Regions from separate parts of the Homo sapiens genome. Here region 2 is reported to be linked to region 1. Evidence: microRNA targets listed by miRTarBase, many of them from high-throughput screens and not tested one by one. Region 1 holds a microRNA gene; the other region holds the end of a gene's coding sequence.
The links. The annotated mature microRNA hsa-miR-187-3p reads UCGUGUCUUGUGUUGCAGCCGG and lies in region 1 at 3,058-3,079, shown strand. An mRNA with a match to its seed (bases 2 to 7 or 8) in the 3' UTR can be bound and repressed. Matches are read on the target gene's strand: a 7mer-m8 pairs with bases 2 to 8, a 7mer-A1 pairs with bases 2 to 7 and ends in A, and an 8mer does both.

Region 1 (4,391 bases):
GCAACACCACCTACTCTCCACTATTTGGGCCTTGGACCTGCACCTCCGTTGTTCCAGCTGAGCTGCCCGTATGGGCCTGGCTTCTGACTTGGGAAAGAAGGCCTGGCCTGCAACACCTGGGAGGATGTGCTGTGAGGCAGGTGCAGGGGGCTCCCACAGGCTGAGGCTCTGTTACCGCCTGGCCTGCATTTTGGTTCCTGGGGAATCTGAGAATCAGCCAGCTGTCTAAGCATCATGCAAGTAAGCAAGTCATGCAGGCAGCCACTCTGGGTCAGCTTCTGGGATTTACTCATCATGACTTGCTCCCTGCTGCGAGGCCAGAGCCAGAGCTCAGGTCTCCCTGTCCTTGCATCAGCACGGGCTTTCTCCCCACTGTCCTAGCTGCCTCTGTGTTCTTTAGTTTCTGAAAATACAGTTCCAGGGTGCCTGCTGCACATGCTTGTAGTCAGAAGTTGCAGATGAGTACTGGGATACCTTCACTTTCTTCAGACAGAACCCAATAATGCAACTCCACTTCTGCTGCCTTTCAAAGGCAAGGTAAGCATGTGCAGAATTCAGTTTCTTCAGAGTTTTGTCAGCAGGAGCCAGCCCCCCAAACTTGGGCACTTGGATAGCATCAGGTGTCTGGACTTGTGAAGCAGGGGGCTGGGTTCTGGGGACTGGGTAGCTTCTCCCAATAGCCAGTAGCGGGCCACTGCCTGGTGGCTCTGTGACAGGCTCTCATTTTTCAGAGGCCGTGTGTTGGGCCCTGAGACAATGATGTGTTAAAAAGTGTACGAGTCCACAGCAAAAGAAACTACCAACAGAGTGAACAGGCAACCTACAGAATGGGAGAAAATTTTTGCAATCTACTCATCTGACAAAGGGCTAATATCCAGAATCTACAAAGAACTCAAACAAATTTACACGAAAAAAACAAACAACCCCATCACAAAGTGGGCAAAGGACATGAACAGACACTTCTCAAAATTAGACATTTATGCAGCCAAAAGACACATGAAAAAATGCTCATCATCACTGGCCATCAGAGAAATGCAAATCAAAACCACAGTGAGATACCATCTCACACCAGTTAGAATGGGGATCATTAAAAAGTCAGGAAACAACAGGTGCTGGAGAGGATGTGGAGAAATAGGAACACTTTGACACTGTTGGTGGGACTGTAAACTAGTTCAACCATTGTGGAAGTCAGTGTGGCGATTCCTCAGGGATCTAGAACTAGAAATACCGTTTGACCCAGCCATCCCATTACTGGGTATATACCCAAAGGATTATAAATCATGCTGCTATAAAGACACATGCACACGTATGTTTATTGCAGCACTATTCACAATAGCAAAGACTTGGAACCAACCCAAATGTCCAACAATGATAGACTGGATTAAGAAAATGTGGCATGTATACACCATGGAATACTATGCAGCCATAAAAAAGGATGAGTTCATCTCCTTTGTAGGGACATGGATGAAGCTGGAAACCATCATTCTCAGCAAACTATCACAAGGACGAAAAACCAAACACCACATGTTCTCACTCATAGGTGGGAATTGAACAATGAGAACACTTGGACACAGGAAGGGGAACATCACACACTGGGGCCTGTTGTGGGATGGGGGGAGGAGGGGAGGGATAGCTTTAGGAGATATACCTAATGTAAATGACGAGTTAATGGGTGCAGCACACCAACATGGCGCATGTATACATATGTAACAAACCTGCACATTGTGCACATGTACCCTAAAACTTAAAGTATAATAAAAAAAACCACACACAAAAAAAGTGTATGAGTCCTCTGTTGCTTCTCAGGGCCTGATGCAGTCTTAGATCATGAGTGCCCAGCCTGAGAAAGGAGTTTGGAGGGGAAAATAACTTATTTGGAGAACATGTGCCTGTATAGGTCTGCACAGACTCAGATATAGTGGGGAGTACCCTGGTCAGCTGGGAAGAGCCCCTCAGTCTTTTAGACAATTTAGGAAGAGAAGGGATTTCCCTCCCTCTAAATTGTTCAATTTTAAGTTCCTGTACAAAATGTGGGCATGATATTGTTATCCCTCTTCCTTCTACTTTTATCTTCTTTTGTTGGTAGAAAACGATGTGACACCTAATTTCTACACTTCTGTTTAATGTCCCATCTGGGCTCAAAGTCTACAGCCTTCCCAAAAGATTCGTTGAACAAAACTGATGGGTCCACTTTACTGAAGCTAGAAATAAGGAGAGCAACACCGCCGCTTACTCCTCATTCCCACAGCCCAGGAATTCTGTGGAGCTCAGCCAAGGATTGCGCGCCTCGGGGAGGAATCTCAACAAGTCACCTTTGGAGGGACTGAAGTTGGGACGCTTTTTGGGTTCTGGGCCTACCGCGTTTTATTTTGTAAAAAAAACCAGAAATGACTCATCCAAAATAATCTGCAAAAAAATGATATGTAGGAGTTTTTGAATAAAAAGAAACCATAAATAAGTAATAAATCCTTCAGAGGCCTATAGGAAATGGATAGCAGTAATGTTGTGTTTACTGCCTTACTCCCAAAGTGCAGATATTTATTATAACTCAGGGCAATTCATTGTACTAGCTTGGCGTTTACAAAATTCTCATCATAGTATTAGAGTAGGAACCCATTTCCTAGGAAGTATTGTTATGATAAACTGTAATTAGTGGCTTGTAAACAGCCATAATTCATTGTTTAAAGGAAAAGGTATGTGGACAGTGAAGTATTTGCGTGCAAAGCCCCTCACCTCTCTGAGCATTTCCATCAGGCTCGCTGCTCACCTGGAGCACAGGTCATCTATGCTGCCCCGGGCAGGACTCCTCGCCCATCACAGCCAAGACTCCTCAGGTCAAGGCCTCTGCTGAGCCCCAGTCCCAGGACCCTCTACTGATGCTGACCTCTGTTCTTTTACAGCTTCCTCATCGGGATGCACAGCAAGTCGGATTCCCCAAGCAGAAGCTGGGCAGCCCACCTGGAAGAGGAGGCCAGGCAGGTGCTGCAGGTCGGGCTCACCATGACACAGTGTGAGACCTCGGGCTACAACACAGGACCCGGGCGCTGCTCTGACCCCTCGTGTCTTGTGTTGCAGCCGGAGGGACGCAGGTCCGCAGCAGAGCCTGCTCCGCTTGTCCTGAGGGACTCGACACAGGGGACTGCACAGAGACCATGGGAAAGTCCAGGCTCTGGTGGGCAGGTGGGTGGGGTGTTGGGAGAGAGGCCGACCCGGACCACCCCAGGTGTCACCCATTCAGCCCCCTTTTTTGTCCTAGTTTCGTCTCTCCGTACACAGCTTGGCTCACCTCTGGCCCAGTGCAGGTAGCTGGTGCTGGCTGCAGGGTGACACAGCCTACTTTGGGTCTGGGCTTTGAGGATGCCTTCTGCTCCTCACCTCCGGTCCCCAGACCAGGTGACTGAGACTCCACAATGGGGGTAGGAGGGTAGCAAGGAAGGCAGTTTCTCCCCAAACATCTCTCCCATTGATGAGAAGCCCACCACTGGACCGCCTCCAGATCGGAAAAGCATTGCATTTTTAGGAGTTGTCTATTAAAATGTGAATATTTTCTGCAAGGTGGGAGATTAAACCACTGTAGGCATTAGCTGGTTTCATTGAAGACATTACTGCCAACATGACAGAGACTCCAGAAGGAAATGAAATCAGATCATGAACTCCCAATAGGGAAGAAGCCCCAGAAGAGGACCCTAAAACTGGAGGTGAGAGGTGTGAAAAGCAAGGTTCCTTCACCTGTGCAGGCTGTCACAGCACTGGGGTGGGAGCTTGGATGCAGGGTCCGCTGAGTGACTCTGCCTTCACAGCTGAGGACTATGGCTCGAATTTCCCCAAAGAGCCTGCTCTTGGGGCAGCACCCTTCAATCAGATTCAGATGAGCCCCTGGCCCCCAGGACTACCTGCATGTTACTTTCCACACCAACCCTGTGTCCTAGATAGAAAGGATCCATTTATTCCCTTGCTTTTCACCAGCCTCATGGTGTTCACAGTGCCTCCTCTTTTACAAGAAATGAGCTAGTTTTAAAATGTAATTGGTGCAGTGTTTTTCCTTCTCTTGAATGATCTGGAGGGAACTAGCATAAAATGACATTTTATGGTCATTTTAGGCTGCACTTAAGTGAAAACTGAGGGGAAAGCCGGGAAGTTGAGCGGATCGAGATGCAGGGAAGGCTCTGGGTCATGTGTCACCATCATGGCCTGAACAACCCAGCAGGATCCACTACAGAACAGATCAGGTTAAGGCAGACATGCTGTCTTCTGTGTGGGAAACCTGGAAACTGTCTTTTTTTTTCTTATTATACTTTAAGGTTCAGGGTACATGTGCACAATGTGCAGGTTTGTTACATATGTATACATGCGCCATGTTGGTGTGCTGCACCCATTAACTCTTCATTTAA
Region 2 (4,391 bases), not on the chromosome of region 1:
AGACATGGCTACCTACTCTCTCGTGAAGATATACTATCTTGGGAAGATACATTCTCTTGAGAAAAATACCACATTTGAAGCTTTCATGTTCTGGAATAGTGATTCTTCCTTCATCTGCAAACACAGGCTCTACAAATGTGGGTTTGGCAGGCAGAATAGAGAATTTTAAAATAATCAGCACATCCCTTTTAGTTTTCAGTCTGGCTTTGCGCTTTATCTTTCTCTTCTGCTCTGGGTTAGAAAGTGAGCCTTTACTTAGTGGGATGGCTAGACAGTTACCAGAGACAGGCCAAAGGATTGGATCCGGGAGGTACCGGCCCGACCCCTAGCTCTGGCTTACGCAACCCCACAGATGTACATTTCGCTGCATCTGAGCAGAGAGAGAAGAGCACCGAGGGCCCCAGTGGGCTGCCCCGGCACCCTCGGCGGCAACGCGGAGACCAACTGTCCGAAACAAACAAGACCAGGAGGTTTGAGGGTAGCCAACGAGGAGTGCGAACAGAGCCCCCTTGAGAGGAGGCTGGGAAAAGGAACCTGTCTGGGATAGCCCCCAGCACAGGGCTACACAGAAAAATCCGAAGACAAGCTGGGGGTCTCCAAGCAAGGAGGAGAGGGGCAGGGTCCGGGTCTCCATGGAAACAGGGAAGGGGGGCTGGATACCCATCCCCATGGAAACGGAGAAGGGGTGGGGTCCCTATGGTGACCAAACTGAGGTCTCTATTGGGAAATGCTTCAGGAGGGAGCCTAAGTCCCGCGCCTCCCGGTAAGTCCCAAGCCCAGGCCGAGTCTAGTTTCGCCTTTTACCTCCGCGGCTCCCGGCAACGGCGGCAGCAGCAGCTTCTCCCCTCCCCAGCGGCACCATGATTGCCCCCACCTTCCCCTAACGTCACTTCCGCTTCCTCTTTCCGGAGGAAGGTGGGGACAGAGGATCCGCCCCTCCCTGGCGCCTCTGGTTGGCTCAGGTTGTCAGGGGGCTGAGCTGCAGCCTCCAATTGGCGAGCGGGGCACCGAGGGGAAGGCGCCCAGGAGGTGGGTTCATCCGCGTGGGGAAGCGCCCGGGGTGGCCACGCGGGGCCCGGAGGGTGTCGCCCTCGCGGCACCGGAGTCAAGGAGAAGGGAACGAATCCCCAAGGAAGAATCCGAAATGTCCTCAGCCAGGTTTGCGCTGACCGCCCTCGCCCTGGCAGCCACAGCCGCAGCGGGAAGGACCACAGTTGGCAGTCAGAACCCTGGCTCCAACCCGCCAGGGGAGCCTGGACGGCCGCGACGTTCCCGGGTTTCTCCTGCCGGGACCCCGGCCTTCCCTTCAGCACCCATCAAAGTTAACACAGGCAGGAGGCCCAGAAAGGAAGACAAGACCCCAAAGGCAGAACTAAGAGTATTCTAAGCCCAGCTGGAGAGGACGCCGCCGCCTCTTCCCCTTCTCACGCGCTTGCCTAGGACCCCCAGCTCCCTTCTCACGCGCTTGCCCAGGCTGGCGGTCCCAACTTTCTTCCCCTGCAAGAGGACGCGGCTACGGCGGGACTCATGCCCGGGCCAGTTAGCGCCACCTACCGGCCACTCCCTTCCTTTCACCGTTCACATTGTCCTGCTGGCCCGCGTCTTAAACCCATTTCACAGTGCCCAGAAGTAGTGGGCATTCGTACCCAGGAAGCGATTCTGCCTTCGTTATGCCCCTGTCCTTTCCAAATGCCTGGAGGATCTAGCTGTTAGATCCTCCCAGCTGCCACTGCCTGTTTTAACCATAAGCTGCTTCTCTCGAATATTCAGAGTGGGACAACTCCAAAGACCAGACCAGGGGTCAAGGGGTTCAGGTCAGTGCCATAACCATTTCTTGCTGGAAGTATGTGAATAGTGACTGGTACCCACCAGACTGCCAGGAATATGTCTCTTTGGCCCCAAGGCTTGAGCCACAAAATCCAGCTGCAGCGAACTGCCATCTCTTAAGACATAAAAACATACACAACCGCCACTGTTAAAAATACATTTATCATTAAAATATATTACACATGGAGACAGGATGCATCATATACAGTTTGGAAGACTTGCTGGCCCAGAAAATCCCACTTGTTTCACCGAACACTCATTTTTTCAGTGATTTTACATTTTATTTTTAGAGACGGGGTCTCCCTCTCTCACCCGGGCTGGCGTACAGTGATGTGGTCATAGGTCACTGCAGCCTCAAACTCCTGTGCTCAAGTGAGCCACCCACGTCAGCCTCCCAAGTAACTGGGACCACAGGCATGCATCACCACACCCAGCTAATTTTTTAAAAATGTTTTTGTAGAGAGGGGGTCTCCCTGTGTTGCCCAGCCTGGTCCCAAACTCCTGGTCTCAAGTGATGCTCCCACCTCAGTCTCCCAAAGTGCCGAGATTACAGGCGTGAGCCACTGTGCCTGGTCATTTTAATTTTTTAAATGCCTGTATTGCCCTCAGAGGCTGAGCAACCAGCCTCAGAGTTATTGAGCCATTATCTGGGCAGGAACGGGGGTCGAGTTTGCATATGCATATACACATCCTCAGACAGAGCACTGAAAGCATCTGAGGTGGCTGTAGCCTATTTTATCCAGCAGCTTCTGCCTGCATTCTTGCCATCCAACTCATTGGCCTTTCAGGACTTTCCATCAAATATCTGATCATGGGGATCTCAGCCCAGACTGACTATGCCCTGGAGGTAGGGTGAGTGAGTACAAGTACAGTTATTTAAAAACATTTTAGGCCAGGCGTGGTGGTTCATGCCTGTAATCCCAGCACTTTGGGAGGCCAAGGCAGGTGGATCACCTGAGGCCAGGCATTCGAGACCAGCCTGGCCAACATGGTGAAACCGTGTCTATACTAAAAACACACAAAAAAATTAGCCAGGCATGGTGGCGGACGCCTATAATCCCAGCTACTCGAGAGGCTGAGGCAGGAGAATTGCTTGAACCAAGGAGGCAGAGGTTGCAGTGAGCCAAGACCACGCCAACGCACTCCAGCCTGGGCAACAAGAGTGAAACTCCATCTCAAAAAAGAAAAAAAAAAAAAAAAGGCCGGGCGTGGTGGCTCACATCTGTAATCCTAGCACTTGGGGAGGCCGAGGCAGGCAGATTACCTGAGTTCAGGAGTTTTAGAACAGCCTGGGCAACACGGTGAAACCCCGTCTCTACTAAAATGCAAAAAATTAGCTGGGCGTGGCAGTGTGTGCCTGCAGTCCCAGCTACTCGGGAGGCTGAGGCAGGATAATTGCTTGCACCCAGGAGGCAGAGGTTGCAGTGAGCCGAGATCGTGCCACCGCACTCCACCCTGCGCGACAGAGCAAAACTCCGTCTCAAAATAAAAAAAAATAAAAAATAAAAAAATCTGTGTTAAATAACTAAAGTTGAAAATTGAATGTCAGTTTTATTATGGTGGATTTTCTCCCGTGTCTTCACGACTCACAGCGCTGAGTGTGCTAACCAATGGTGGGCTTAATTGGGGTACTAGGCTCAGGAAATAGCTGCCATTCTTGCTACCAAGTGGCCTCACATAATTATCTTAAGGCATCTCTTGAGCTGAAACAGGTGGGGCTGGTAATTGGCAGCCTCAAGTAAAATAGGAGGAGAGAGAGGCTCAGAGTGGGTTGCAGAGGAACTGGTGAATAAATTCTTGAGCCTTCTTCTTCTCTGTCATATCAAGCTTTTGGTGACCAGCTGGGTTTCGAAGCAATAAGCTGCCAAATATGCTAGCTGCAAGAAAAAACACAGAAAAGAAATGATTCAGCAAAAGAAGGTACTAAAGACACACATCACTTAACGACAGGGATATGTTCTGAGAAATGTGTCATTAGGTGATTTCATCATTGTGCAAACATCATAGCGTGTACTTAAACTTTCACAAACCTGTACTTACACAATTCTAGATGGTATAGTCTATTGCTCCTAAGCTCCTGTACAGCATGTTACTATACTGAATACTACAGGCAATTGTAACACAGTGCTAAGTATTTGTGCATCCAAATATATCTAAACATAGGAAAGGCACATCAAAAATACGGTATTATGAGCTGGGTGTGGTGGCTCACACCTATAATCCCAGCACTTTGGGAAGCCAAAGCGGGCAGATCACTAGAGGCCAGGAGTTCAAGACCAGCTAGGCCAACATGGTAAAACCCCATCTCTACTAAAAATAACAAAAATTAGCCTGTCCCTGCCAGTGGGCTTTCCAAGGGGAATGGTGCTGTGTCAGAGGTGGCTGAGGTTGGGGGGTTGTGGGGGAGGCAGCCCTGCTTGGTGTCCTGCCTCTCTGGTTCCTGCCTCCTCCCCCAACCACCCCGTGTCCCCAGTGGGGGCTCGTCCCCAGGATGCGATGAGGTTCCATGAGCGTGGTAGGGATGGTTGAGGCACGGGCGTTGGAGGGTGTGGCCCGGTGGCCCC

Region 2: the mRNA of INPP5B is a reported target of hsa-miR-187-3p. Seed matches in the 3' UTR shown: 7mer-m8 at 3,400-3,406 and 7mer-m8 at 2,826-2,832.

The regions. Positions count from the first base shown.
Region 1 is chr18:35,903,523-35,907,913 of GRCh38, reverse strand. It overlaps MIR187 (microRNA 187), which reads left to right and starts at 2,988; the gene lies at 2,988-3,096.
Region 2 is chr1:37,858,727-37,863,117 of GRCh38, forward strand. INPP5B (inositol polyphosphate-5-phosphatase B) reads right to left here. Exons shown (of 24, transcript NM_005540.3): 24 at 1,971-3,704. The coding sequence ends at 3,589. It overlaps MTF1 (metal regulatory transcription factor 1), which reads right to left and starts at 866. Exons shown (of 11, transcript NM_005955.3): 1 at 805-866. RefSeq lists a silencer at 803-1,132.